Linked DNA regions of Homo sapiens. The protein of the gene in region 1 interacts with the protein of each later gene in a pairwise test. Each region holds a gene or a part of one and is shown in the gene's direction. Other genes may lie near its edges. The genes, in order: HJV and TMPRSS6.

Region 1 (4,583 bases):
AAATTCCCCTTTATTTATATATCTACCTATATAGATATCCATATCTATATAGATATTAATAAATCTAGAGAGACAGAAAGCAGACTGGTGATGGCCAGTCTAGATGGCTAGATAGATAGACATGGATATAGATATAGATCTCTATATAGATAGAGGTAGATACAGATATAGATATATGCCCTATTAGTTCTGTTCCTCTAGAGAACCCTAATACAGTGACCGTATTTGGAATCGGTCCTTCTGTTAATTTCACTTGGCAAGTACTAAAAGATGATGATCTCAGATATACCTATGGCTGCAAAAACATGACATGGCTAAATCCCTTGGTTGCAGTATCTCTTTTCTTTTTTAAGGGGGGTGGGGGGGCGGGTCTCACTGTTGCCCAGGCTGGAGTGCAATGGCGTTATCATAGCTCACTGCAGCCTCAAACTCCTGCGCTCAAGTGACCCTCCTGCCTCAGCTCCCAAAGTGCTGAGATTTTGCAATATTTATGGTCACAAGATTATGTTATTCCATAAAAGTATCTTTCTGAGGCTAGGCATGTTGGTTCACACTTGTAATCCCAGCACTCTGAGAGGCTGAGATGGAAGGATTCATTGAGGCAAGGAGTTCAAGACCAGCCTGGTCAACATAGTGAGACCTCATCTCGGAAGGAAGGAAGGAAGGAGGGAGGGAGGGAGGGAGGGAGTGAAGGAAGGAAGGAAGGAAGGAAGGAAGGAAGGAAGGAAGGAAGGAAAAGTATATTTTTGAATCTTTTTCTATTTCTCCAACTCTTTCTTTAGAAGAATTCTATTTCCATTCTTTCTTCACCTCTTTGCCTTTGTTAGCCTTCTCTCCAAGCAAATCGGGAGCCTTTATTTTTTGTGTATTCATGAGGGAGAGGAAGATGAATTGCTGTACAAACTAAAGTAATGAAAATGGAGTAGGTAGGAGGATAGACAGCTGCAAGGATCTGAGCTGGATAGACTGAACAAACCCTCATCCTAAGCAACTCACAGCTCAGATTTCTTCTCTGGACAGCTGGCTTTTTTCGTCCTTCTGAAATACTCTGCAAAGATAGGAGAGGGGCTATGAACTACCTCTGCTATGGATCTTATTCAAAGTCAGCTACCTCCTAGATACTATCTGTAGAACCTAAATGTAATATTCAGCATAGCAGGGATGAACATGGTAAATGAAAGGTATCCAATTGCCCACTGTAATTTTTAAAGGCCAGGAGCTCAACATTATTGAAAATGCTGGAGGGCTGCCTGGAGTAGGCAGTGACCACAGAGTCACACAAGCTGGAATTGGATATCCAACTTGTCTGTCATATTTCTCTCCTCCCTCCCTGACTTGGCACTCAATACTCCATATTCTTTCTAATCCTCTAACCCTCCCCACTCCCCCAACTCCCACACCCTACCCCCACCAACGTTCCTGGAATTTTGGACTTAGCTATTTTTAAAACCGTCAACTCAGTAGCCACCTCCCTCCCTGCTCAGCTGTCCAGTACTCTGGCCAGCCATATACTCCCCCTTCCCCCCATACCAAACCTTCTCTGGTTCCCTGACCTCAGTGAGACAGCAGCCGGCCTGGGGACCTGGGGGAGACACGGAGGACCCCCTGGCTGGAGCTGACCCACAGAGTAGGGAATCATGGCTGGAGAATTGGATAGCAGAGTAATGTTTGACCTCTGGAAACAGTAAGTCAAAATGAAATTGCAATTCCTTTAATAAGCTTTTATATTGAAGTTAGACTTTTATAAAATTACAAACACCTACTTGGATGTCTCTCGTCCAAATGCTGGGATCTCTCCCTACCAAGGTGCCCCAATCTCCATTTCTCTTTCTGTCTTATTTCTTTCTGGCCTCTGGCCTCTAGCTTTTTGAAGTTTAATTCTCTGTCTCTCCTCTGGCAGTCTTAGCCCTCTCTTTACCTTATTACCTCAAGACTCCTGATGAAGTTTTAGAAGGAGTTCCCTACGTCCTCTATTCTGTAGTTTTCTTACCAAGGCCAAATATGACCTCAGATGATGAGTCACTGATACCCTTCTATCCTGCCCCCACTTAGCAATGCCCTTCACATTGAGATTCCAAGCATGGGGGCTGCTCCCTGTAAATGATTTCTCCCCACAACTCTAGTCCCTCCATTCTATTCTCCCTCTTGCAGGACTCTTCCCCCAATCATATCCTTACCCATAAGATAGGGGAGTTAGGCAGGAGGGATTTAGCCCCTCTCCAACTCCTGTCATCATAAAAGACTGAGAACTTCAGAATTTGAAAAGAAGAGATTAATGGAAGGAGTGATATTTGGGAAAATACAAGAACTGTTGACTTAGAAAAAACAAATATTGATTTGCATGTTTGGTTTGCATCCCATTATTCCATGAGAGAGGGAGATTAAAATTGCAGCTCTCTAGAGCTGATGAAAAGAGATTGGTTTCCTTTTCATTTGAATACTGATATTCTAGACGGGATGGGTATGCCACCCTTAATCCTTCTTGTGTTCTGACACAAAGGAGGAAAAGAAATGTATGACTCCTAGAGGGCATCTCCTCCTAATGGAGAGGGACAAATAAGAAGTATGTTTCTGAAATATTTTCAGGTCCTAATTTTACTAGGGTACCCACTAGGATTACTGGTATCTGATCTAGCCCCATGATTCCTCCATCTTTGACATACCTGCTGTTTGGTAGCTCAGAATGGAGCAATACAGTGGACTCTGCCCCCTTGAGTTCACTCAACCTTCCCTCCACCCCCACCTAGGGGTATTGCACAAGGGCCCTAAAAGTGGCCACAGGAACAGGGCAAAGAGGCTTAACTGCCACACTTATAGTTTGAGGAACTCCAATCTCCCCAAATTCCAGTCTGTTCATCCTTTTCTTGATCTCCCCAGATTCACTCCACATTATCCTTACCAATCTTCAATTCTTCTCTCTCTCCATGTCCAGCCAAATTTCTTTTTTCAGTCACTTACAGGGCTTCCGGTCAAAATTCACTAGGTAGGAGGGTCATCAGCTGGGAAGAACCGGCGCCTGGGAAACCTGGCTGGATAGGTATGGGGGAGCCAGGCCAGTCCCCTAGTCCCAGGTCCTCCCATGGCAGTCCCCCAACTCTAAGCACTCTCACTCTCCTGCTGCTCCTCTGTGGACATGGTAAGGAAGGGCCAGGGAAGGGTTTGGGGAAATCTAGAGGGTAGGCTGCTATGTAGGGGTGGGCATGTGAGCCTGAATGAGTGAGGAGAGATAGGCGCTGAGAGTCCCGATCACTCGCCCTGCTCTCAAATACTAATATTTTATTTCCCGTTCAGTCTGGGGAAGGCCACTGGGGAAGCCCTTGGTCGACAGGCAGAAGAGATGTGGCAGGCTTACACACTTTTAGTAAGACAGCCGAGAGAACTAGGGACTAGGGGGTTGGGGGCTGGGGAAGGCCCTTAGTTAGGTTTTAGGAAGGCTGGAAACCCCTGATGAGATTTGGAAGAGTTATGAGCAAACTACACTCCGATAGAGCAGAGGTCTGAGGACCGTCTCACAATCCTCTCCCTTCTGTCTTTAGCTCATTCTCAATGCAAGATCCTCCGCTGCAATGCTGAGTACGTATCGTCCACTCTGAGCCTTAGAGGTGGGGGTTCATCAGGAGCACTTCGAGGAGGAGGAGGAGGAGGCCGGGGTGGAGGGGTGGGCTCTGGCGGCCTCTGTCGAGCCCTCCGCTCCTATGCGCTCTGCACTCGGCGCACCGCCCGCACCTGCCGCGGGGACCTCGCCTTCCATTCGGCGGTACATGGCATCGAAGACCTGATGATCCAGCACAACTGCTCCCGCCAGGGCCCTACAGCCCCTCCCCCGCCCCGGGGCCCCGCCCTTCCAGGCGCGGGCTCCGGCCTCCCTGCCCCGGACCCTTGTGACTATGAAGGCCGGTTTTCCCGGCTGCATGGTCGTCCCCCGGGGTTCTTGCATTGCGCTTCCTTCGGGGACCCCCATGTGCGCAGCTTCCACCATCACTTTCACACATGCCGTGTCCAAGGAGCTTGGCCTCTACTGGATAATGACTTCCTCTTTGTCCAAGCCACCAGCTCCCCCATGGCGTTGGGGGCCAACGCTACCGCCACCCGGAAGGTCAGGCACTCAATCTTCCTTCCGATCCACCTCATGAGATTCTTCCACGGGCACCATTCCTCCCCATCCCCACTATTCAACAGCAATGCTCCCTAATTCCCTTTTCTTCCTCAACCTCTCCCCCATCTCGAATCACTCCCTTCTACCAAACACCTGGAGCTGTAAATCACTTCCCCTTGATGGGAATTTGACTCAAATGCAGAAAACCTTGAAGAGACAGTCGGAGAGGGCGGACCTGAGGAGTTTCAGAAGGGAAACTTTTCCCTCTCCTAGGAAGTTGCCACGATTAAGTAGAGAGGGGGTTAAGTAGGGATGAGGTAATACTGGAACATAAATAGGAGAAGGGATCAAGGATTGAGGGCCATAGTAGTCCTGCATCTCTACTTGGATCAGATCTCTAACTATGTATGAGGTCTGATTGGGGGGAAGATGCACTGAACCCAAAATGAACTGTTTTCCCTCTTGTCCTCACAGCTCACCATCATAT
Region 2 (3,810 bases), on another chromosome or scaffold:
CCTTCAGAGGTCGCTAGGAGGCTTCTGCGTGAAGACGGACAGCAATGGCTGAGGTGCGGAAAGTGCTCGATGTGCATGAGCAGGGGTGGAGCTGGGGCCAGACCTCAGAATCCTTCCCTGGCCTCTCTCACTTCTGCCTGCCTTAGGGAGGGACCCCTCACCTGCTTCTTCTGGTTCATTCTCCAAATCCCCGAGCACCGCCGGCTGATGCTGAGCCCCGAGGTGGTGCAGGCACTGCTGGTGGAGGAGCTGCTGTCCACAGTCAACAGCTCGGCTGCCGTCCCCTACAGGGCCGAGTACGAAGTGGACCCCGAGGGCCTAGTGATCCTGGGTCAGTACTGCGAGTGGAAACGTGGGGTTGGCCTCATGAGGTTGGGGGAAACAAGCTGTGGTGTGGCCCGGGGAGGCTGCCTGCCAGGCCTGGGGTGCTGTCAGGGTGGGCCCCCCAGGAGAGCCCCCCAGGTGAGGTAGCAGTGCCATTGCATTCAAGGAGCCAGGAAAGAAGGGTGGGATGGGGGCATTTAGGGTAAATCTCAGACAAGGCTGGCTCCAAGGGTCTCCTCTAATTTTATTTTCATTGTATTTTCTTTTCTTTTTTTTTTTTTTTGTTCTTGTTTATTTGTTTGTTCATTTCCTTTTATCAGAAGCCAGTGTGAAAGACATAGCTGCATTGAATTCCACGCTGGGTACGCTATTTTTTTTTCCCCTCCCCATTTTCCTTTTGAGTTGGCATTTGTCTTGACTTTGTTGTGTATCAGGGGGACACATGGCTTCTGTTGTGTGTGCAGGGAGCCCTGGCCAAGAGTCACCCAGGGGATGCCATGGTGGACTCAGCGATGTGTCCCAAGCAAGTCTTGGAGCCTGTAGGGGGAGAGGAGGTGGCGACGTGCATGCGTGTATTTGTGTGTGTCTTGTAGACGGGTGTGCATGCGTTCCTGTGTGGGTGTGAGGATGAGTCAGGTTTAGTGGTCCACGAACGTGACTCTCCTCTATCATTCACTTCAACCTGCCCACAAGCTAGTTTCCACTGATGGTAGAAAATCATCTTGCCAATTCACGGTTTGTCAGTCACGTTGGTTTTAAAACTTGGTCTTTTGGAGGTAGCGGTGCCATTGCATTCAAGAACGCTCCTTCCCTCTTTTCCTTTCCTTCCCAGTCAGGCTCATCAGCCCTCCCTCCCTACCTGGTGCCGTATTGCTAGAGTCACCTTGCATTTCTCCAAGCGGACCCACAATCTTTCAGCTGACCAGCACAGTCACCACGCTGCACAAGGCAGGAGGTGCTGTCCAAGTTGTAGTTTGTGTGAGTTGTGCAGTGCACCAACTGGCTGCTGGACTCTATGGCCCCTAAATTCTCAGATTCCTCCCACACTATCTAGTGTTGTCACCCAGAGCCAAGGTGGGGGTGAGCGTCTCAACCCCTTCTCAGGGAGGGAGGCAGAGTTTAAATCCTTGTTATACCTTTCCTTACCTTCCCGTCTTCCCATCCTGCTGGTCAAATGCTTGCTTCTTTGTTGGATGGAGGTGATGAGGTCAAAGTACAGTTTTCAAAGAGGTGAAATCATGATTCTCATACAAAGATAGAGTGACCATGTGTCAAATATTTATTTGGCTGATTAATGGGGGAACGAGTAGAATGGTAAAGAATGCAAGAAACTGATCTATTTGTCTATCTATCTATCTATCTATCTATCATCTCTGTTGATATCTGTCTGCTTGTCTATCTAGTTATCTAACTAGCTAGCTGTCTATTATCTATCTGTCTGTCTCTCTGTCTCTGTCTGTCTAGCTAGCTAGCTGTCTGTTTATATCTATCTATCTATCTATCTATCTATCTATCTATCTATCTATCTATCATCAATCATTAATGGAAAAAGAGAATTGCTAGAATAAGATTACCAAGTTAGATACAAACCTGGTTAAGGTCCTACCAGGCAAGAAAACTCAAACCTTTGGAGTTGTCTTTTCTAGTGAATTAAAATCATTGACAGCTTATTACAGTCTTCTGAAAGTTAACATCTACCTCTACAGAGTCTGAGGTTGATAATCTACAACCAATAGTAAGTCAGAGATATTACTCCTGAGAGCCTCAGGGGGACTTAATCAGATGATGCTTGGAGACAGAGACTGGCTCATTGCAGCCTGGACACCGAATCTGGTCAATTGCTGCCTGATTTTGTATAGCCCATGAGCCAAGAATGACATATATATATATATAACAGAGTCTCACTCTGTCATCCAGGCTGGAGTGCAGTGCCGCGATCTTGGCTCATTGCAACCTCCACCTCCCAGGTTCAAGCAATTCTCCTGCTTCAGCCTCCTGAGTAGCTGGGACTACAGGTGCCTGCCACCATGCCTGGCTAATTTGTATATTTTTAGAAGAGATGAGGTTTTGCCGTGTTGGCCAGGCTGGTCTCGAGCTCCTGACCTCAGGTGATCCACCTGCCTCCACCTCCCAAAGTGCTGGGATTACAGGTGTGAGCCACCACGCCTGGCTCCATAGGCCATTTTTCAATTATTAAAAAATATAAAAGTCAGCCAGGCATGGTGGCTCATGCCTGTAACCCAGCACTTTGGGAGGCAGAGGCAGGCAGATCACCTGAGGTCAGGAGTTTGAGACCAGCCTGGCCAAGAAGGCGAAACCCCGTCTCTTCTAAAAATATAAAAATTAGCCGGGCATGGTGGTGCGCACCTGTAGTCCTAACCAGTCAGGAGGCTGAGGCAGGAGAATCACTTGAACCCGGAAGATGGAGCTTGCAGTGAGCTGAGATTGTGAGGTTGTGCCACTGTACTCCAGCCTGGGCGACAGAGTGAGACTCCATCTCAAAAAAAAAAAAAAAAAAAAAAAAAAAAGAAAGAAAGAAAGGAAAGGAAAAGGTCCTATGGAAAGTTATTTTTTCTCCTGCAATAGAAGTGCTATGTAATAGCCTCATGTTGCCTCGTGCCTCTGTGTCCCCATGTTCCTGGCAGTTGTTCTGTAATTATCTGTGCTCAGTGGGTGTTCGTTTCATGAATGAATGATTGAACAAATGAATGAAAGCATGAATGAGGAGACTGGTTCAGTGCATGTCCAGAGCACAGAGTCTCAGGGGGCAGAGATAACAACTCAAATCCTTGAAGTCGACTTTATGAGCACTTCCTTCATGCCAGGCCCCATTCCTGCGCTGAGGACACCAGGATGACCGTGTCCTCACCCCTGCCCTCGGAGGAGCTTTAAGCCCCATGAGGGAGACAGACACATAAACAGATTCTCATAACACCAGGTGCCAGTGTGAGAATAGAGGCCCCAGAGGCAGTGGAGAGAGGGAATTGTTCGTTCCAAAGCAGAAGAGGGGGCAAATCAAGAGCCTCACACAGAGTCCCAGATCTACAGGAGGGAGGGGTTGCTCCTGACTGGGGGATCCTGGAAGACTTCATGGAGGGGGCATCAGATTTGGGCATGGGCCGGGCGTGGTGGCACAAGCCTGTAATCCCAGCACTTTGGGAGGCCAAGTTGAGCGGATCACCTGAGGTCAGGAGTTCGAGGCCAGCCTGGCCAACATGGCAAAACCCCATCTCTACTGAAAATACAAAATTAGCTGGTCATGGTGGCCCATGCCTGTAATCCCAGCTACTTGGGAGGCTGAGGCAGGAGAATTGCTTGAACCCAGGAGGTGGAGGTTGCAGTGAGCCAAGATTGCACCATTGCACTCCAGCCTGGGCAGCAAGAGCAAATTCCATTAAAAAAAAAATTAGCTGGACATGGTGGTGTGCACCTGTAGTCCTAGCTACTCGGGGGTGGGGGTGGGGGGCTAAGGTGGGAGGATCACCC

The links.
Region 2: the proteins of HJV (region 1) and TMPRSS6 interact in binary tests that used the Homo sapiens proteins (3 or more experiments, as listed by UniProt).

The regions. Positions count from the first base shown.
Region 1 is NC_000001.11:146,018,688-146,023,270, reverse strand, and holds the start of HJV (hemojuvelin isoform a precursor), read left to right. Parts: upstream 1-1,535; 5' UTR 1,536-1,684; intron 1,685-2,932; exon of another isoform or gene 2,933-2,950; 5' UTR 2,951-3,039; coding exon 3,040-3,136; intron 3,137-3,536; coding exon 3,537-4,096; intron 4,097-4,570; coding exon 4,571-4,583. UniProt on the Homo sapiens protein: Acts as a bone morphogenetic protein (BMP) coreceptor. Through enhancement of BMP signaling regulates hepcidin (HAMP) expression and regulates iron homeostasis.
Region 2 is NC_000022.11:37,092,427-37,096,236, reverse strand, and holds part of TMPRSS6 (transmembrane protease serine 6), read left to right. Parts: intron 1-146; coding exon 147-331; intron 332-644; coding exon 645-686; intron 687-3,810. UniProt on the Homo sapiens protein: Membrane-bound serine protease. Through the cleavage of cell surface hemojuvelin (HJV), a regulator of the expression of the iron absorption-regulating hormone hepicidin/HAMP, plays a role in iron homeostasis.